3 linked regions of the Homo sapiens genome follow. The protein of the gene in region 2 interacts with the protein of the main gene of each other region in a biochemical or structural test. Each region holds a gene or a part of one and is shown on either strand. Other genes may lie near its edges.

The links.
Region 1: the proteins of KLHL15 (region 2) and PPP2R2B form a complex in vitro, tested with the Homo sapiens proteins (one study listed by BioGRID).
Region 3: the proteins of KLHL15 (region 2) and RBBP8 form a complex in vitro, tested with the Homo sapiens proteins (2 studies listed by BioGRID, with this or other methods).

The regions. Positions count from the first base shown.
Region 1 is NC_000005.10:146,588,707-146,595,911, forward strand, and holds part of PPP2R2B (serine/threonine-protein phosphatase 2A 55 kDa regulatory subunit B beta isoform), read right to left. Parts: intron 4,357-7,205; coding exon 4,265-4,356; intron 1,521-4,264; coding exon 1,241-1,520; 3' UTR 1-1,240. UniProt on the Homo sapiens protein: The B regulatory subunit might modulate substrate selectivity and catalytic activity, and might also direct the localization of the catalytic enzyme to a particular subcellular compartment.
Region 2 is NC_000023.11:24,024,118-24,031,779, reverse strand, and holds the start of KLHL15 (kelch-like protein 15), read left to right. Parts: upstream 1-4,593; 5' UTR 4,594-4,640; intron 4,641-6,721; 5' UTR 6,722-6,923; intron 6,924-7,662. UniProt on the Homo sapiens protein: Substrate-specific adapter for CUL3 E3 ubiquitin-protein ligase complex.
Region 3 is NC_000018.10:22,929,377-22,936,410, reverse strand, and holds the start of RBBP8 (DNA endonuclease RBBP8), read right to left. Parts: upstream 3,084-7,034; 5' UTR 2,847-3,083; exon of another isoform or gene 2,147-2,846; intron 1-2,146. UniProt on the Homo sapiens protein: Endonuclease that cooperates with the MRE11-RAD50-NBN (MRN) complex in DNA-end resection, the first step of double-strand break (DSB) repair through the homologous recombination (HR) pathway.

The sequences.
Region 1 (7,205 bases), on a different chromosome or scaffold from region 2:
TCCACAGCTTCAAGTGGACTTCATTCACTTCATGTCACAGCTGCTTGATTTCCCCACAGTTCATTTCTGTAGAAGAGAGCCTTCTGGTCTGTTTTTCCAGATGGCGAGCTTGGGGTGAGTTAGAAGTGCCTGATTGGACTTCACAACTCAGCGTTTTTATTGGCTATTTTTGTTCTAGGTACAATGGAGGTTGATGGATTGTTACTTTTGGTTACCAAAACCAGGAGGAGGGGAGGGTGCTGCTTAGGAGAAACACCCAAAAAGAACAGACCAGCCTTTCTCAGGGACTCAGGGGTGGTGGCACTGCTTCCAACTTACTGCTTCATTTAGAACACCAGATAATAAGCACCCAGGACTCGGCCTTTAGAAGTCAATGGAATAAATAAGCTGGAAAAGGTTGAAGAGAAAAAAGCCAAGGAACATGTAAGTAGAAGATTATATGGAGCCATTTAAGAGCACAAAAAGCAAGAGTAACAAGGCAGCAGATGGAATTTGGCCCCGCCTGGCCCTGCCAAGCTCACTCTGGGAAGCACTGTGTCGAAAGTGCTCTCTTTCTGTCCCCTGAAGCATTCAAGTTCCCTAGCCAAATTCTCAGGCTGTTTCTATGGAGCTTACAAAAAAAGAGCATAGCAGGGTTGATGTGCCCTTTCCTTGTCATTCTGCATCCTCTTCTCAGCTTCATGCAATAAATCTCTGGCTTAAATGAAATTGTTCAAAGGAAAATGGAAAATGGAAAAAAAAATGGTGGAGGGGCAGGAGATACTGACTAGTTCTGGTTTTTCACAAAACAAGAAGAATTTGTCTAAGAGTAAACGGTGTTTATTTTTTGTTGATTTTTTTCAATCAAATGGAATTGCTTAATTAAAAAAAACTTATCTCTTTTCTCCTTAAATACTACAGACAACCTCATTTTATCGCAGCAGACACCTAGGAACAAAACACTGGACCCACCAGAGAAAACTGGGCAATAAAAGCATCAGAAGTTCAAGTCAACTATGGAAGAATTACTGTTAGCTGGCAGCTTTCAATTCTAAACAGAAGTGTCCCAAACCTATTGGGTTTGACAAAAGTTTCTTAGAACTGGGGAGCTGGGAATGTTGGACTCCTTTTAATTCTATTCCAATCATTTCCTGTATAGGGAAATTAAAGTCAATGCATCAAATGAAGACCCAAAGAAACATTTAAAAACTTGTTTGACTAGTATTCAGTATGTGAGATTATTAAGTAATAACTTGTCCACCTAGTTAACCTTGTCCTGGAATATATATAGGTTATTTGTAGCCGCCACTGCTATAATATTTTCTGAAGGATGCCAAGCTGTATGCAAGATCTTTTTGCTAAAGTCCAGACTGTCGACACTGATCTCGTCTTTTCTCCGCTTGCCCCCCACACACACTTTTCGGGGTTTGAGGATAGCCCGGGGCTTGCTGTTTTCCCTCGAAGCCTCAAGGGTCACATCACGCTTGGTGTTTCTGTCGAACATCCTGAAGAAGTTGTTGTAGGAGCCTGTCATGATGACACTGCAAGGCAGAGAGCAAAGGCAATGACATATCTTCACTGTCTTTTCTTTTTGGAGCAAATGATACCATGTTATGGCCAGCTTATGACACCATAGGTTTTATTAAAAACAAAAACCAAAAAATGAGAACAGGCTCTGCAGTGTGATTATTGGCTTTTTGTTTTTTTTTTGTGTTTTTTTTTTTTTTTTTTGAATCACTGAAAGCAATAGGATTTTTGGCTGGGTTTGGAAATGAGGGATGGTGAGAACTCTCCTTGTAATTTGCTTTTGCTCAATAGATTCTTTTTGCTTCTTTGGCTCAGAAAAGGTGTCCACTGGTTTTAATGATCCCAGTCCTACCTACCTCCCATCAGGAATGTGAGACTAGAATGAGGTTTGTCGAAGTAGACACACTTTTGAAAACAATAAGCAGTTGTACGTGTTTAAGGTTTGGCCACTGTCAACAGGGTTCCTGGGCCGTCTGGCCTCTAAGGCTTCATGGCATCAGTGCAGTGAGGGGAGAGATGCTAGTGGCATCGTGCACGAACCCGGGGCGCGACCTCTCCCCTGCCGAGAACTAGCTCTGAATTCGGCCTTTTTAGAAAACTTATCTACGAAATGGATGTCATCATGGTCTTATCTAGGAAACAAGTAAGGAAATTCAAATTTTAAAAGAATCTGGGATGGAGAAATAAAAAGATTTTATATGGTTTTTTTCCCACACTTAATGGACAGATGGTTTCCACATTTTTATAAGTTATCCCCTCTTAGGCATAGCTGCAATCGATCAGGAGAGTGGCAAACACCCAATGTCTTCCAGAGGCAAGGTACTGAATGTTTAATGGTGACATTTCAGACACGGTGACAAGCTGAGGTGGGGAGGGAGAGATTCCTTGGGCCAGGGCAAGTACCCCAAGTGCCATCACACGGTGGTTCCCCTGGAGTGGGGGGCTCCTACTCATTTCTGGGTGGAGCTCTGACTGGCTCCTTAAGATGGGAGAGCAGGAACTCTCGTGTATTTCTCAAATGATTTGGGATGTGTAGAGAGGTGAAGGAAAAAGCTGACAAGATTGGGCCACAGCAAGGGGGATGTGTTTTTGGGCACGTTGTCACCTGTACCAGGTAAATTAAGCAAAGGTTAGATTTTGTTACTCTGGCTCATCAAACTGATACTGTGAACTGTGTCTGTGTACTCGAGTGGACTGTTATCACCTTGTCAGGCAGGGCGCTGAGGGCTTTGCCTCCATGATCTCGTTTCAACTTCTATTATCCCCTAAAAGGGTTTTACAGAGAAGTAATTTGCTCAGTGTCACATTGCTAATTGGTGGTAAAGTCCACCCTCAAACCCACATATGGTTGACTCTGGGGCATAAGTATTCAGCCGGTTGGCCTCACTGCTTCCCATACTTTGACGTTTGCTTGCCCACCATGACCCGACTTATTTTTAAACAAGTAAGAGATTATTTTCCAAAAAAAAAAAAAAAAAGACTACCAACCTTATCTGAAAGAGAAATTAAACTTCCCAGTTGTGATGTTATAGAAAGAGTGTTGATCTTAGGATTCAAACTCTAAACTTGTTACTTTTGTCTCTACTACTTACTACTTTATGAGGTTGGGCAGATTACTTTATCTTGCTAAGCCTCAGTTTCCTTAACTGTAAAATGAGAACGATGGAAGCAATCTTGTTAGACTGTGGTTGGGATTAAATAAAATGATGTGTACGAATGTGTTTGGTATATAGTAGGTGCCTAATAAGTGTAATTTTTGAATCAAGGCTAAGATAGAGGAAAAACTTGAGCAATAATAACAGATATGTAAATAATAATATATGAATAAATAAATACCTATAAATAAATAATAAAATGAGAGGGCTGGCTTCTTTTTCCCATGGTGGATTTTGTTCTTATGTCACAGTTGCTTTGCTCTCTGTCCTATACCAACTGGTCAGTGTGACTTGGGTCCTTTGCCACGTGGAGACTCCTTCCAAGCCTGCTAAGGAGGGGATTCATTTTGGATCAGTGGCAAAGAAAGCCAAGAAACAGGTGGAGTGTGAGAGAGAGACAGTTCATATTCACTGAAAGCTTGAATCTCTGAATGTCTTGCCATAACAGAATTTCTATGCTTTCAAACACTATTATTGGTGCCACCTTCATCAAGGAACGAAATCAGCCCCTGGTAGCTTGCACTTAGTTCTCATGGAAATCAGAGAATCATTTGTATTTGTCAAACTAAAAATGAACTATTGGGAGGTATTATGAAGCACTGTTCAAATCAAAGGCCTTAAAATAGTAATAAATCACTTTGAGGGAATGTGATAAATGAGGTTGACTAGAATTCAGTTAATGAACTACCAGGGCCGTTGGCCAGGTCTCCACTAGCAGCTTCAAGGGATAATTTTTGATCTGGAAAGCCTACTTGGCATTAATCTGAACTGTTCAGGCTGGAATTTGCTGGTGGATAAGTGATCTTCATTTAGGCATGTTGACCTAGTGCTGGAGGTGTCTTGTGTGAAAAAGATAGGACTTTCTTATTAACATTAAGGTGTTATCTGTGCCAGTTCAGAAACAGGATTCAAAGGCCTTACTACATCCTTCTCTTCTTTCCAGCCTTGACTTCAAGGGTCACTAGGGGCCCACATTATGCATTTCAGCCAGGTTTTGGGGCCCAATTTTGACCTCCCTTTGGCTGTACTCTACTTAGGATAAATTCCCTGAGCCTCTTCAAGACAATCTTTGGAAGGTTCTTCAGCCACAGAGCCTTTCTTACCTGTCTGACCCATTCCACACACACTCAAATTTATCAAAAATGCAGTCATTTTCATAGAGGGAACACAGCTTGCTGCGGAGGTAGTCATGAACCTGGAGAGGAAACATATCGAGAAGGTCAGTTATTATTTTAAACAGTAATTATTTCTGCAAACACCTCCTCTTCTGATGTGAGCTGTTAAATCTTTCATTGTACATGCTCTTTGAATCAGATGGCCTTGGATCTGAACCTAGGCTTGGCCCTTTTAGCTGTAGGACATTAGGATGGGTTGATGAGCTTCTCATGTAGATGATATGGATTAATCAAGCTTGCTTGTATAGACAGTGGCATCCAGTAAGACTAAATAAGTGGTAGATTCTCATTTTCTAAGCTGATTTGCTCACAGGCATTAGAGATCACCATTCATGCAGTCTTTTATTCAACAAATATTTACTGAATACCTACTACGCACTTGAGATGCAGCAGTGAGCCAAATATCCTTGCAGTGCTTTTGACCCAGTGTCAGGTGACAGATTATATAACCAAGTAAATAAATAAGATGTTTAGATGGTGATAAAATCATAGAACAAAAGTGTATGGAAAAAGAGCCTGGGAGATCTTGTCGGGGGTGTATTATTTTATACAGGGCAAGTAGTCAGGGCTTCACTGGATGAGGTAGCACTGGAGCAGAAGCCTGCAGGAGATGAATGAGCCACAGTGATGTCTGGGTTTGGGGTGAGGGGAAGGCTCTCCAAGCATAGGAAACAGCAAACATAAAGGCCTAGAGGCAGGAATCCTGGAGGGAGTGTGGTGGGAGAGGAGTGAGTAAGCAGCTGGGGGAGAGGATGATCAGTTTACATAGGCCCTTTATTCTGAGGAAGAAGAGACCTCACAGAAAGGATTGCTGAATCTGCTGTGTTGCAATGGATCCTAAGGGTGCAAAGGCAAAGGGAGGGAGACCAGTTATAACCTGAGTGATAGATTCTGGCCTGGACCAGGGCATGAGCAGTGATGGGGACTGGTCAGATTCTCCTTTTGTTTAGGGAAAGAGCAGATAGGACTTGGGTCAACTCTGAGGTGTGGAGAGAAAAACAGGAGTCAAAGATGACTCCCTGATCTTTCTCCTGAGCAAGTGGAAGGAGTAGGTACCATGTTCACTTTTGGGTACAATGGTTTAGAGATGTCTACATGTGGAGCTGTCGAGTAGACTCTGAGGTGAAAGGTGCTGTCCTGGAGTATGTGGCGATTCTTTCCTGGTTTCTCTTTTCCAGTGAAAGCAGCCAGCATGGTTATCAACTAAGAGTGAGCAGGAGAGAGAAAGGGTTGAGAAACAGTGTCAGATTTCTGGAAGGCACCAGGGGACACTTGACGTTGTTGGACATGTATGTCAAATAAGGCTCATCAAGCATAGTTGAATATTTTTCTCCAGCTACATTCAGCAACTCAGCTGTAGATGCCAAATAGATGAATAAGGTTCAGAGAGTAGTAGCCTGGGTTCTCTGTTTTGAAGGTAATCCTTCCTGAACCCACTAGCACGGAGTGGCAATAATAACGGGCATACCCAATATGCTGGCTTGTCATTATTAGCCAGGTGCTTTATCTGTCAAAACCTCATTTCATCTCTAAAGCCATCTTATGATGTAGGTACTTTCATTCTCTTTACTTTAATGGAGCATGAAGCACAGAGATATGACATCATTTGTCCAAGATCACACAGAAAAAGTGACAGAAGGGGAGGGAACTGAGCCCCGGTATCAGGCTCTGGAGTGCACACTCTGAGCTGCACTAGCAACCTGCCTCCAGCTTGCTCTGGTGGGTCCTCAGTCCTTGACAGGAGCTGTGATAATGAACTCAAGTGAGGCTGAGAGAGAAGGAGATAGAACTGTGTGAAAGCAGAGGGAGGCTACCAAGGGCATTGGTGTTTAAGTTAAGAGTGATGATTCGATCTCTTTTTTCCTGCAACTGCGGCTCTTTCTCTTCCTTCGACTCCAACAGTTCTGCTGGATGCAGAGCTTCAGGCTCTTAGTCTTGGGCAAAGGAACGAGGTCAGGCTCATCCTATGTTCCATTAGATGTTCTGGGTATTTGAAAAGCTCTGAGTTATTTGGACAGAGGAAGTTATTTCTAACTCTGCAAATTAATTTTCCCCCACCTTTACTCTCTCACTTCCAAACAGTTCCAGGCCTTGTCAGGGTAACAGCTTCAGTGCTTTGGTGACAAGGGAATACCCCTACAGCAGTGCTCTTGGCATTGTTAGGTGCATTTGGGGGCTGCAAGGGTGAGGCTGTGTCCTGCCCTTACAGAGGCATCTCTGCTATAAACTAACTCATTCACCTTCACTAGGGGGCACAGCAGTAAAGGTATATAAACTGGGCAGTGGCAAGGTTTTTAAGGTCTAGTTCCATATGTCTGCTTTGTGATGAACCTTTCCTCATCTGTCACCATTCACCTTCGGCATTTTGTCTTATTACTCACCTGCAGTGTTTCTATAAGTGTCAAAACATGTGTGCTTTGGAAGTCACGCCCATTAGCAGGAATGACATTGCTGAGAACTCTGTAAATAATTCTTGAAAGATAGAAGTTGGGATAGATTCAAGGGAAAACCTAGTCTGAACCATTATTTCTCCACCATACCTAAGGTCTGGGTAGCTCCTATCTGCCTCCAATTGACAGCATTTAAAGAAAAAGAATGTCTACTATGAAGGTATGCTGTATTTATGTTTTGTTGCACAGAAAAAAAGTCTTCTTAGGCAAACCAGAGGGACCTTTTTCTACTAGAGGAAAGAATAAAGTGAGATGTATACATGAGCAACCTCTAGAGCTTGGAGCAAGAGAGAACTTAAAACTCATCCTATTTGATGTTCTTTCTTCATGTTCCTAGTATGACTTTTCTATGATCCTATTAATTTGTGCATGGGATTTTGGACGCCAGACTGAGTGTCCCAGTACAGTGTTTCTCATAT
Region 2 (7,662 bases):
TTGTGCTGCTGGCAACAGTAGTTACTGGAGGTTTTTTTTTCTTTCTTTTTCCACTTCTTTAGTCATACAACACCATGTAGCAGCTCTTTATTCCTGCTACTCACCTCAACTCTGGCACTCACACTTAGAATGTGTGCATGTTTGGGTACACATCTACTGAAATGCAGTACTTAAGAATATGTAGCTTGGGCTGGGTGCGGTGGCTCACGCCTGTAATCCCAGCAGTTTGGGAAGCCAAGGCGGGCGGATCACCTGAGGTCAGGAGTTCGAGACCAGCTTGGCCAACCTGGTGAAACCCTGTCTCTACTAAAAATGCAAAAAATAAGCCGGGCGTGGTGGTGGGTGCCTGTAATCCCAGCTACTTGGGAGGCTGAGGCAAGAGAATCGCTTGAACCCAGGAGGCGGAGGTTGCAGTGAGCCAAGACTACACCATTGCACTCCAGCCTGGGCAACAAGAGCGACACTCCATCTCAAAAAAAAAAAAAAAACAAATATGTGGCTCGTATCTTGAGGCTTCTAAGTATAGTGTTATTTTTCATTGGTTCATAAAGAACTTAAAAGTGATTAATTTTGCTGGGCACAGTGGCTCAAGCCTGTATTTTGAGCTACTCAGGAGACTGAGACAGGAGGATCCCTCGAGCTCAGGAGTTCGAAGCTGCAGTAAGCTATGATCACTATGATCGCACCATTGCACTCCAACCTGGGCTACAGAGGGATACCTCATCTCTTAAAAAAACTTTTTTTTAATGATTAATTTTGGGAAAGGGGGTATGTTACTCCTTTTAACATTTTCATTTACTAAGAGGCACTGTCTACGTTGCATTTCACAGTAAATAGATTTAGTTAAAATGGTGACATTCGTTTCATCTTTCATTGATAGTGGATGTTTAGCAATTACAGTACTTTTCTATCTGGCTTAGCATAGCACACTCTTTGTCTTACTCTTATCTCACTGGCTACTCCTTCTCTGTCTCCTTGACAGTCCTGTATCTTCTCCCGGATGACTCCCTCACATTGCTGCGCCACAAAGCCCAGTCCTCGCTGTACACTCAGCCCCTTGATAATCTCATAACTGAAGCTGAAGCATAATGTTATTTTTCATTGGTTCATAAGGAGCACAAAGATGATAACTTTCTTTTTAAGGTTTTCATCTACAAGGGGGCATTGTCTACACCATGTTTCAAGGTAAATATATTCCATTAAAATGGCAATATTCATTGCATCTTTTATTGATAGTGAATGTTTAGCAACTTCCAGTAACTTTCTCTCTAGCTTGTAGCATTCCACACTCTTGTCTGATCTCCTGGAACCAGTTCCCTCTGTTCTCCAGGATGGCTCCCTGGCCCAGGCACACCTCTGGGCCCAGTCCTTGCAGCTTTTCCTTCCTCCCCACTCCCTTCAAAACTGATCCTCCTGAGGTCTTTGCGATGTCAGGAAATGACAATTCCATCCTTCCAGTTGCTCAGGACAGAAAACCTTGATGTTATCCATGACTCCTCTCTTTTCCTTTATCCCTACCTCCAGGAAATCCTGTTGGCTCTTCCTCCAGAATATTTGCAAAGTCTAAGCACTTCTCACCATCTCCACTGTAGCCTCCATTCCATTCCATTCCATTCCATTCCATTATCGGAATAGTCTCCTAACCCATCTCCCTGCTTCTGCCCTAGTCCACCTAAATTCTGTTACTTACATAGCAGCCTGAGTGTCAAATCATATTGGTCCTCTTCACCAAAGCTTCCAGTGGTTCCCAATTTCTCACAGGCCAAAGACCTTACAATTGCCTACCAGGTTTTATACACTCTGGTCCCTAATTTCATTGAAGGCAAGGCTCAAATGATACCTCCTACTTTGATCATCCCAGTTAAAACTGGAACACCCTTCCCCAGCTCTGTTATTTTCCATAGCATTTATCACATCCCGATTTGGGGAATAGACGCCACAGAATTAGTCCAGGCTGACCACCACACAAACAACAAATCTAAAAATAGCAAACTCTACCACCACCTGGATTGGGAGTGGGTTAATACAGAGTCCAGAGTTGCTACAACATATTATCTAAAAGAAACAGGATGTACAAAGAAACAGCAAAGTGTGACCCATACTCAGGAAAATAAGGAGTCAACAGAAAACTACCTCTGAGGGTTCAGTGTTACTGTGATCAGTGCAATTATAGTTTTTTTTTGTCCTGCATTTTCACATAAGATTATATTAGAAACAATTTCATAAGTCATTAAAACTTCTATGAAAATAATATATATTTTTTTTGAGGCAGAGTCTCCCTCTTTCGCCCAGTCTCCCGGGTTCAAGCACTTCTCCTGCTTCAACCTCCCAAATAGCTGGGATTACAGGCATGTGCCACCACGCCTGGCTAATTTCTTCGTATTTTTAGTAGAGATGGGGTTTCCCGTGTTGGCCAGGCTGGTCTCGAACTCCTGACCTCAAGTAATCCACCCACCTCAGCCTCTCAAAGTGCTGGGATTACAGGCGTGAGCCACCGCACCCGGCCACATTTACCACATTCTAACAGGCCACATAATTTGCTTATTTATTTTATTACCTGACACATGTAATCCGTACAAGGGCTAGAGTTTTCATATGTTTTATTCACTGATGGATCCCCAGTGGGTAGAACAAGACTTGGCATGTACTAGGCACTTACACATACTTATGGAATGAATAAATAAATAGTATAGTAGATTGCAAACCAACAATTTGTGGAATTAAGTAGGAATAAAAATACAACTATGTGAAGATCATTTACTATGTTAATATAATTACATGGTACAGTGGAAAGATCATGGGGTGGCTGGGTGCGGTTGATCACGCCTGTAATCCCAACACTTTGGGAGGCTGAGGTGGATGGATTACTAGAGGTCAGGAGTTCGAGACCAGCCTGGCCAACATGGGAAAACCCATCTCTACTAAAGTTACAAAATTTAGCTGGGCGTGGTGGTGTGTGCCTGTAGTCCCAGCTACTTGGGAGGCTGAGGCAGGAGAATCACTTGAACCTGGGAGGCAGAGGTTGCAGTGAGCCAATCACGCCACTGCACTCCAGCCTGGATGATAGAGGGAGACTCTGTCTCAAAAAAAAGAAAAAAAAAAAAAGTAAAAAGAAAAGTGATTACCAAGACAACTACCACAGACTGGGAATTTCTGAAAAGCCTCAACTTTTCTTTTCTTTTTTTTTTTTTTGAGACAGCGTCTAGTTCCGTTGTCCAGGCTGGAGTGCAGTGGTGCAATCTCGACTCACTGCAACCTCTGCCTCCTGGGCTCAAGCCATACTCCTACCTCAGCCTCCTGAGTAGCTGGGACCGCAGGCCCGCACCACCATGCCAGCTAATTTTTTGTATTTTTAATAGAGACGGGGTTTCACTATGTTCGTCAGGCTGGTTTCCAACTCCTGACCTCTAATGATCCTTCCGCCTCGGCCTCCCAAAGTGCTGGAATTACAGGCGTGAGCCACCACGCCTGGCCTCAATTTCTTAAAAAGCAAAAACAGGAGGGAGGAGGAGGGTATGCAGTATCCTAAATCCTCAGAACCCCTGGGGAAGAACCTCATTCCAACTCCACCAGCACTCCCAGGCCCAGGCTTCTAGCATGCTTCCGACCTCGCTAGCTGCTAAATAAATAGCTATTGAGGAATGTGTATTCTCAAATACTTAGGCTAGAGGGCTAAGAAAAGACAGCTTCCATCTACCTCTGTGGGACTCTACCAGTGTGAAAGGATACTCTCAAGGTATTTAACAACTCCCATTACAGTCCAGAAATTGGTGGGGAAAGTTAAAATATATTTTCTTTTCTTTTTTTTTTTTGAGACGGTGTTTTTGCTCTGTTGCCTGAGCTGGAGTGCAGTGGCTCACGCTTGTAATCCCAGCACTTTGGGAGGCCAAGGCGGGCGATCATGAGGTCGGGGGTTTGAGACCAGCCTAGCCAACACAGTGAAACCCCGTCTCTACTAAAAATACAAAAGTTAGCTGGGCACGGTGGCGAGCGCCTGTAATCCCAGCTACTCGGGAGGCTGAGGCAGGATAATCGCTTGAACCCGGGAGGCGGAGGTTGCAGTCAGCCGAGATCCACTGCACCCCAGCCTGAGCGACAGACTCCATCTCAGAAAAAAACAAGCAAACAAAAACAAAACAAACAAACAAACAAAAACAAGAAAAGAAAAGTTAGCCGAGCATGGTGGGGCACGTCTGTGGTCCTAGCTATTCGGGAGGCTGAGGTGGAAGGATTGCTTGAGCCCGGGAGGTCAAGGCTGCAGTGAGCTGAGATCATGCCTCTGCCCTCCAGCCTGGCCGAGAGTGAGACTGTCTCAAAAAAAAAATAATAATAATAACATAAAAATAAGAAATAAGAGTGAAAGAGGCATCATTGATTGAAGATAACTTGGGGAGGGGTTCATATAGTAAACGTATAGATTGATTGAAAGACACAGCCCAGTTTTAAAACTACATAAATATCCAAAAAAGCACATTTGAAATTCCACGAGACCTTGCAATGTCAAAATAAGGAGGGACGGGAAGCACGGTGATCACACAATGGCTTATGACATACACTCACTACATTTATACCTGGTACAAAGAGCGCAGAAACGTTTCAACTCTTGCTTGAATCAAGAACAGAAGCCTCTCTTTAGACAGGTCAGTGCCACATAGTAATGTATAGCTTAAAATGTTAGTTAATGTACAAAAATCCAAACTCAGCGTTTAGATGTTCGGGAATAATGCATGAACATTTAAATATTCAGAAGTGGAATGTATGCATTTTTAAAGTTTATTTTATGATTTAATTTTAAAAATTTGTTTTAATGTGAAATTCTGGGGTAATTTGTCATGTAGTAATAGATACAAATATGGCAAGCAGGGATTTTTAAATAATGAACAGAAATATCTTAAAGGAGCTATTGGAAAAGATGGAAAGAAAGTGTGAACAACTTGGGAATTTCAGTGTCTTACAGTTTTTTTAAAGCTTGTTATAGTTTAAATCGGAATAAGGAAGCGTATTTCCAAAAGATTGAAGTGATTGTGTTATCTCTCCCACGAAGTAGTCTACTTCAGCAAAACAGTACACCGTGTGCTATTTTGGCCTCTTGGGAAAGATGGTATGTTCAAGTTTGCTAGAAAGAGATAATTATCGCTTTTAGCGACACCTCTCACGGAAAGTTCATCGGGATATTGGTCTAGAGAGAAAATGGCGGCGGGGGGTGGGGGTGGGGGAAGCCGAAATACCTCAGTTTAGGATCTGCTATGGGCAATGGATGCCCTAATTTAAGGTTAATTGTAGATCCACGGGCTTCCAACTGTGTATTTCCGTCATCTACACTTTTCCCAGAAAGAGATGCCATAATAAATTTACAAAACAGTCCTATAGTCTAGTTTTATATTCTTGTCAAGAAAAGGTAATATTTAAAAAGTACTAGCTAGAATTCTATAAAAAACGAACAACAAAAATCACTGCCCTCTGAATGTTCGTTCTTGATTATTTTGACGCAAGTAGAGACAGCTTTTTTAAATCCGGCATTATCTCCGGGTGGTGCAGACATGCAATTTTTTATGAATTTTCCCACCCTTGGGAAATCGATTTCTGAAACGTGTAATTGTTGTGCAGTAAGCCAAGTGGACAGTGACGCAATAGTCCACTGCAAGTTGCCTTACAAAAAATGATGTCATTTGGCGCAGATCTAGTCACTTTTATAACAGGTAGCTATGGAAAAGCTCCCTCCACGTTGTCCCCGATTCCCCCACCCCCACCGTGGCCAAGATGCAAAAAGACACTTTCCTGGCTTCCTAGCCCTCAACTTGTCGAGGGTGGGCGCACCGCAGTGGCTCAGGGCCCATCGCTCGTGCAGGCGGAGAGAGACCGCTGCAAGGGGACGAGGACAGCTGAGTGTCCTCAGCCCCGACGGCGGCGCCGCGGGGGAAGCTGCGTCGGGCCCAGTCCAGGGCCGCGACGCCCGGCCGCCTGTTTTCCTCGGTGGGAAACCGCTGGCGTGGCGGGCCGGCAGCCGGGACGCGGGGCGCCGCGGGCGCGGGACAGCCTTCCCCGCCCCCCCTTCCCCCCCGTTCCCACACCCGCTCCCGCTCCCGTGGCGCCGGAAGTGACGCGTTTTGGGCTGAAAGATGGCGGCATTGGCGCTCGACCAGGGGGAAGGTAAACACCCGCCAGGCCACGGGCTGGCCCCCTCGGGGCGCCAGCAGGGGCCGAGGGGGGGGCCTCCCGGGCCAGCTCCCCGCCCCCAACGGCTTCCCACCCTCCGCCCTCTCTCCCAGCGTGGCGGCCTTCCGCGTCAAGACGACAGCGCACTGGGCCCCCTGCCGGCCAGCCCCGCCTCCCTGGGCGGGCCCCGGGCGGCTCCCGCGGCCCGCAGGGGGCGCGCGGCCCGGAGCGGCCCCCGGCTCGTGGCCCCGCACGCCCCGCCCCTTCCCCGCCCCTTTCCCGCCTTCCTCCACCCCCGGCGTGGGTGATCCCGAGGCTCGGCGCGCTTCGGGGCAGAAGCCCAGAGACGCCGTCCTCGACGCTTCCTCGGCTGGTGCTTCTGTCTCTGCCTGCTGCCCCCCAGCCCTTTTCCCCGCCCGCGGCCCCAGTCGGCCCTCCCGCCGAGCCCCGTCGGGTGCTGCGAGGCCCCCGGCGTTGGCAAGGTCGGTCCGGGCCCCGACGCCGCGCCGCCTCGTGCGGAGCCCGACTGTCTGGTTTCTCGACTCAGCGCTGTCTTCTTTCCCAGGACTTATCCAGAGGGGGCTGCAGGCGAGCACTCTCGTGCCCCGCCGGAGCGACCCGGCTCGTGCCGGGAGCGGCTGCTCGTAGACGTCCGAGGAGCCTGCCGAGTGCCGTCCCGGCGCCCGACCGCCCACCCATCGGCCCGCTGGCCCGGTTCTTCCTGATGCAGACTGCCGTCCACTAGAGGCTGGACAGGACCCCCCGAGGTACGTAGCCGCCCCTGGCCGCCGGCCTGCGGAGCCCGGGCTTCGCCCGCGGCCCCGAGCTAGGCACGAATTCGCCGGCCCTCTCTGCACGGACCCGAGTCAAACATTTGGTAGACGCCGGGACCTCGTTTGTCTTCGAGTTTACTTAAATTGTTTGAAATGTAATTTTTTTTTCCAGAGAGAGCGAGAAAGAAAAAGGAAGAAGCATAATTCAGCCATTTTTTGCAGCACACAGCTGCAGGTACCATGATTATTTTTTGCCTAACCCGTTCCTTCCCTTTAACAATTCAATTTATGCCTGAAATAGAACTATGCAAAATGCGAGGCATAAAACTAGGAATCGGAAGGTCTGGGTTCGACTTGGGTGACTCTGAGAAAAAATCGCGTACCGAGCCTTGGTTTCTTATCTATGAAATATAGTCGGTACTACCAACATCGCAGGGTTGAGAGGACTATATGAGGTCATATATGTGAAAATAATCCTTAACTGTAGAGTGTTGTAAGAATGCAAGGCCGTTTTTTAAGTAACCTTTGGTAGAGTGGTTAATGTAGTGGCTAACTGTTGCTGCCTCTTTATTTCTATATTATAAATATAAGCAAATAAGTACGGAATAATAGTAAAGCAGTGCTGTGAATCCATAGATCTGTAATAGTCACGTTGCTTGGCCTTCCTCCTACGAAGTGCTAACTGCTTATTTAAATAACGGTATTCTTTAATTCAAATGTAACGTTACCGTAG
Region 3 (7,034 bases), on a different chromosome or scaffold from region 2:
TATTGTTTTGGCTGGGGGAGATGGCTCTTGCCTGTAATCCTAGCTCTTTGGGAGGCTGAGGTGGGCAGATCACTTGAGGCCAGGAGTTTGAGATCAGCCTGGCCACCATGGTGAAACCCCATCTTTACTAAAAATACAAAAATTTGCCAGGTGTGGTAGTGCGTGCCTGTGGCCCCAGCTACTCAGGAGGTTGAGGCAGGAGAATTGCCTGAAACTGGGAGGCGGAATTTGCAGTGAGCGGAGATCGTGCCACTGCATTCCAGCCTGAGCGACAGAGACCCTGTCTCAATTAAAAAAAAAAATTGGTTTTTTTAACTTTTGAATTGGTGAAACATACTGAGCCCAAAACTGAAAAATATTCTTAGTCTTGACTTAACAAGCATCCACATATATACACATATCTATATATATTTTATAAAAGAGACAGTTGACTGATGTATTAACACAGATGAGGATCTGTATAACTTTCCAAAAACAAGAGAAGTCAGTAAGATTTAAACACAGCAAAGATCTATGAATACAGAAACATCTTAGAGTCATAAGACAATTAGGGTAATGTTACTTCATGCCTCTCTTAGAATAAAGGTGAATCATTAAGTTTATTACATAGTCCTTGAAGAAACCAACAGGTTAAGAAGTTTGAATGGATTAGTAAATATTTTAATATGTGTTCTTAAAATGAAACCATTAATTAGCTACAACTTAAAAAGTAATAGTGATCAGCAAGTCTACTAAACCTCACATCTGGCTCCTTAGCCAAAGCAAACTGATTGTTTCCTGCTAACCATTTCCTGAGGTCTCTGACAAAGGGGCTGAAAGAGTAATTCTGAAGGGAGCAGGAGTATATGTGAAGCCACTTGGTGAACCGTCAAGAGCTACAAAAATAAACTATCAAGCTTTGCAAAAATTGTGATTAGACTTTTAAAAAATAATCCAGAAACTAAATATGAGCTGGATTTTAGATATTAGGAAATTATTAATTTTCTTGGGTATGATAATGATGCGGTTTTGTTTGTTTTTTTTTTAGAAAGGCCTTATCTGTTAAAGGGATATTTACCGAGATATTTACAGGTAAAGGGATATACTCTGCGATTTGCTTGAAAAAAAAAAAATCCAGCAAAAACAAACAAAAATGGATGTTGGGTGAAGAGATGAAACAAGGGCTGAACTTCAACAATTTCTGAAGCTGGGTGGGTGCGTATACAATGGGGTTCATAATTCCAGTATTTCTCTTGTGTACATTTATTTCTGTAAAAAAGTTTTTAAAAGTAGAATTAGGTGCACTGCATTAGTTTTGTTACCAAAGAGGTTTTTATTCTATCTTTAACTCTAACAGATAAACAAATGGGCCTATATATAATTGTGAATAAAAGTCACCATTTGTTTCCCACATACCAGAAACTATAGAATATTAATATTAATATTTGTATTTATATATTATTTAATATATAATTATATATTATAGAATATTTATATTCTACCTAACCTTCAGAAAAACTCTGTAAGACAGCTACTATAATTTCATTTTAGAGTTGGGGGAAGAGGCGTAAGGCAGTAAATGTCCAAGGTCACACAGCTGGGACATGGCTATGTCAGGGATGGAAATCAAGTCATGAGACCAATAACTGTAAAATACCTCTCTGTAGCCCGCATGTTCTCAATCATAGGTGGGAACTGAACAATGAGAACACCTGGACACAGGAAGGGGAACGTCACACACCGGGGCCTGCCGTGGGGTGGGGGGAGGGATAGGATTAGGAGATATACCTAAAGTAAATGACGAGTTAATGGGTGCAGCACACCAACATGGCACATGTATGCATATGTAACAAACCTGCACGTCGTGCATATGTACCCTAGAACTTAAAGTATAAAAAATAATAATAAAATAAAGAAAAAATACCTCTCTGCAGCAAAAAGAAAAAAAAAGAAGACATAAACGATTTCTATTAAGTCAACAGTTTAAAATGAAGGTTTAATTACTTCAATGACCGAAAAAGTATTAACATATTCGTTTAAAGAGTGTAAAATAAGCATCCTTTACGTATCTATCTTCAAGTAAGTGATGTACAGTGCCTTAAAAACAAAACATAAAAACAAAACATTCAACTTGCAAATTCTGGCTCGCAAAACCCTTTCCACCTACCCGCATGCCCGGCACTTTTTGTTAGCATCTCTCTCTGCAATGAACCGTTATTCGAGGCACGACGACAATGTACATTTTTCAATCTCTCAGAACGTCACGTCTTACCTCCCAAGTTGCATTCTGGGCTCAAAGGCCTGTAATTTGTGTGTATTCCTTAGTATAAACCACTACACTGCAGGTGCTCACCAAAATACTCGCTGCCACACCACAGGTATTCTCACACGGGTAAGGCGAGAGGCACATTTCATCACACAGGGGACTTGAACAAACTGCACGGGACATTTCAGGGGTCCTCTTATGGGCGGAGCAGAGCAGCGGGGCAAAGGCTTTCCAGCCAGGTCCCTTCTCCATCCATTTCTCCCCAGGTGCCCGCGCCGGTTCCGCGTGCGGGTCTGGCCAAAAAACCTCCGAAGCGCGCGCGCGAGCCGCAGTCGGCGCATGCGCGGGGCGGGCTTGGCGGCGAAAGGCGCTTCCTCAGCCCGCGCGGGAGACCCAGAAGTAGTACTGAGGTAGCGCTCGTCCTCCCGCCGGTCCACCACCACCGAGTGTAGCCCGGGCCCGGCCTATTTCATCAGACACAACCCCAGAGCCGGGAGCCACCCCTACCCCGGGAGCCCTTCGCCAAGCACGCAGCTCCAGACCAGAAGCAGTCGCTCCGACCCAGAGCTCCGGGTGGGGTAAAGAGATTGCTTTTACTCACCGCCTCCGAGATTGCCTCGGGATTCGCGAAAGCCCCCGAAGGGAAGCGAGCACTTTCTGAGGCTGTGAAAGGACGGCTGCTCGCTTTTCTCTTTCGCCCTTTTCCCTCACCAGAGTGCCAAATCCTCGGTGGGAAAGCCGACCCCTCCGGACAGCCCGCGCTTTAAGGCCGGGGGCTGCCGGCCGGGCTCGGAGGCGGCCGGACCCGCCCCGCCCGGGAGCCCGCGCGACGTCACGCGGGAGTTCCACTTGCGTCACGCCCCTTCCTCCAGCTGCCCATCGCGGCGGCGCACTTCGTGCCCTAGCTGAGGAGCGGGCTCTTCGGTGCGGCCCATCCCGGAGGGCGATGGTTGGGGAGGGGAGCGCTACCTCGGAGCTGCCGGGAGCTACCCGAAGAGTCTGGCGACCGCCACAGCATTTCTGAATTGCGCTGGGGAAAGCTCAAGCCGTTCTGTTGGGGGAGCATCAAGCCCTTGCGGTTCTGTGAAAGTTATCTGTACACTGTGTCTAGCTTAAGCATTTTGCAGGGAAGCATGTGTAGAGTGACCTGTACCGAATGAAGAGTTAAAATTAACTGATGGGGGGTATGGACGCGGATCCGTCTAACATAGTTTTCGGCCTTGTCGCTGTTATCTGCAGTTTAGTGATGTGACCTGACAGGGTTGTGCGGTAACGCCATAGATCAAAACGATCTGTATTTTGCTGAGGTTAAACGGGAAGTTTCTGGCAAATTTGAAACGAGAAGGAATCTCCTTCAGCATTATTTATTGGGACAACATGCTGTTAGATAATTTTTTTTAAAAAGTCCATTTTTCTTGTGGCTGTTCGTTTGAGATTCAAACCGATAGTAGGTATTCCTATTTCTCCTGATTTGTAAAAGAATCGTTTTTAGACCACTAGAAATTCTACAAATGAACAAAATAGACTAGAATCAAATATCTTTTAAACCAGTCCAGTACTTTTGTGTAATTATTCTAAGACCTGGGAAGGGATAATATTAACAGGCTTTAAAAGTTTAGTACTTAGAAATCATAAATACAAAGTGGAAAGGTAATTTTTCCACCTGTCCCACATCTTAAGGGATGAATAAATATAACTTAAAAAGTTAGTATACAGAAGAGGGGTGCTAAACCTTCTATTAGCCTGTTACAGCAACTATCATTCACTTCCCCATTTTATAAGACTTAACTCCACATTTTTAAAAGAAAATGGATGAAATTTTGACTATGTAATTTTTAACGCAAGATAGGAAACATAATTGACAGAGTGAAGCTTTTATGTTTATGACAGAAATAACCTGTAATAAGTTTGTCATTTAACAGAGTATTGAAAGAGCAGTGTGCTGTGGTCTCTACTGTGGTCCAAAGAAAAACTGAGCAGAATGACCCAACCTGTTCCTATGGCCTCTGCCTGTGTCTCACTCTCTAATCCATTTATGCAAGTCAGAAACCAAAGAGTCATCCTTGACACTTTATTCATCCCTAACTTCCATATCCAAGCCATCACGCAGTCCAATTTTACTTACTAAACATGTAAATCCATCCCCTTCTCTCCATCACTACCTCCATAATCCAAGATACTGTTATTTCTTACCTAGTCTACTGCTAGGCTCCTTTCCACATCCACGCTACCAACCACCCCTCCTAAATCTTTGTTTTCACTGGTGTTCAGAAAAAAATTTGAACTTCTATTCTCCATATATATATTTAATTTTAAATTACATACATGTACTGTTGAAAAATGGTACATGATCTAATGAAGTTACAGGCTCTGAAGTCAGACATCTGGGTTTAAATCCTGCTCTAATACTTCCTTACTGAGTGACTTTGGACTGACTGCTTAAGCTCGCTGTCCCATTTTACCTACCTGTAAATTGAGGATAATAATAGTACCAACCTCACAGGGTATTAAGATTAAATGAATATATGTAAACTGCTTAGTATTCAGATATATACTATGTGCCCAAAAGCTAGCCATAATTAGTATTTCTTAGCTAATATGATTATAATCCATTTTAAAAGCATTTTTAAAGGATAAAAAATAGAATAAAAATACATCTTCCCTCCTCCACCTTAAATTGTGTCTACTTTGAGACCACTTCTCTATACTGCAGCTACTGTGATCTTGAAAAGTAAATCTGTTAATGTCACTATGCTGCTTAAACCCTTTCAGTGGCTTCCAGTTACTCTGTGAAGGAAGCCCCTTTGAATTGCCTCTGCTACCCCTTTGGCTTTATTTCCAGACATTTTCTGTCCTCTGGTCTCACTAGACTTTTGATGTCTCCTAGGCCATTGCGTGCTATTGTCTCTGCCTGGAGTTCTCCACCAAACCTACCCCCACTCTTTGCCCCAGCTATCTACTAATCATGTTTTTATCTTATTTCAATAGTCTCTTCTACTAGATCCTCCTACAGTACCATGTAACCTCCCCATCTTACAGTTTTTATTGTTTTAGTTATTTAATTAATTCTGTCTCCCCACTGGACTGTAAATTTCTTGAGATAAAAAACCACGTCTTGGGCCAGACTTTGGGTGGCTGAGGCAAGAGGATCACTTGAGGCCAGGAGTTCAAGATGAGCTTGGGCAACATAGTGAAATCTTGTCTCCTATTCTAAAAATCAAACCAAAATAGCTGGACACAGTGGTTCGTGCCTCTAGTTCTAGTTACTGTGGAGGCTGAGGTGGGAGGATTGCTTGAGCCCAGGAGTTCAAGGCTGCAGTGAACTATGATTGTGCCACTGTACTCCAGCCTAGGTGACAGAGCGAGAGACCCTGTCTTAAAATTAAAAAAATAAAAAATAAAAAAGGTTTGTTCACCCTTTTATCTCCAGGAACTAGCCCAGTGTCTGCCACCAAATCAATATTCTATGAATGAATGAAATGGGCATTCCCTGGTGGATCCCATTTCTATGTAAATGGAAACCTTTGGGTACATTCAAAATTCTTAGATTTTTAAATGAGATTTTATATGGCCACTTTAACAATGGAAATGGCGGGCATCCTCATAGATAGGTTCTAAAGCTTTAAGAACCACATGGAATAAATTTTGAGGTTCCAAAGATCTGCTGAAAAAACATCTTTAACAGAGAAGCAGTTATTTTGAACTCTTCATAATACTGGGTTTCTCATATGTTGTGGCTTAGGACAGTACTTCCCAAACTTTTTCAATTTCAGCATGCTTAGAAAATGAACACTTGTGTTATATATTGTAATGAAAAGATGAGGCTGCTTCCATCCAGTGGCAACAGAAGTTGAGACTAGTCACCTCAGGCCCAGTGCTGCCACCTTCAGGGCTAGGTTTTTAATGTCCCAGCACACCTATTGGAGGCCCCTGGCTAGAATGCTGAATTTAAATAAACTAGTGAAATAGTTAAAATGGTAAGTTTACATTATGTATATCTAGGCACCAATTTAAAATAAATTGTGTGATAGCAGTACAGACTCTAGGATTCTTAAAAGTAAAGTTTTGGAACTCACGTAGATTTAAAAGTCATCTAACTCAAGCCATTTACAAATGAAATCCTGTAGATTCTAGAATCTATGCTTAACTCCTGCAGCTGGGTAGTTGAGTGTTGTGAAGGGAAAATGACGTATCACGTTAGACTGATATCACTAAAGTCATATGGTTTCAAACTTCATGCAGGGCATCAGTTAATCCTTAAAATAGCCTTTGTTCAGCTCTTTTTATTTTCTCTGCTGTCTTCCAGACCTTTACTATTTTCAGTCCTCAAGCCTCTGAAGCTATTTTCACTCTAGGTGGACAACCTGGCCTCCTGATTAAACAAGACAATTGAGCTCCACAAGTGTGATCTTCCTAAACTTGCTTTTTTCTTTCTCAACCCTACGAATTAGGCAAAACCATTTGCAGTTAAAAATACAACCTGAGGCCAGATAGGGTGGCTCATATCTGTAACCTCAACGCTGTGGGAGGCCCGCGGGAGGCTCACTTGAGATTTGAGAAACTGCAGTATAGGCTGAATGACAGCCAGAACCTGTCTCTTAAACACACACACATACACACACACACACACACACACACACACCCGCCTGTCTCTTCACACACACACACACACACACACACACACACACACACACACACACCTGCCCAAACAATCCAGTTGCTTCTCACCTTTGTGTCCACCCTGGTTCAAGCTACCATCAACCTCTTCTACGGCAATATCCTCCTTTAA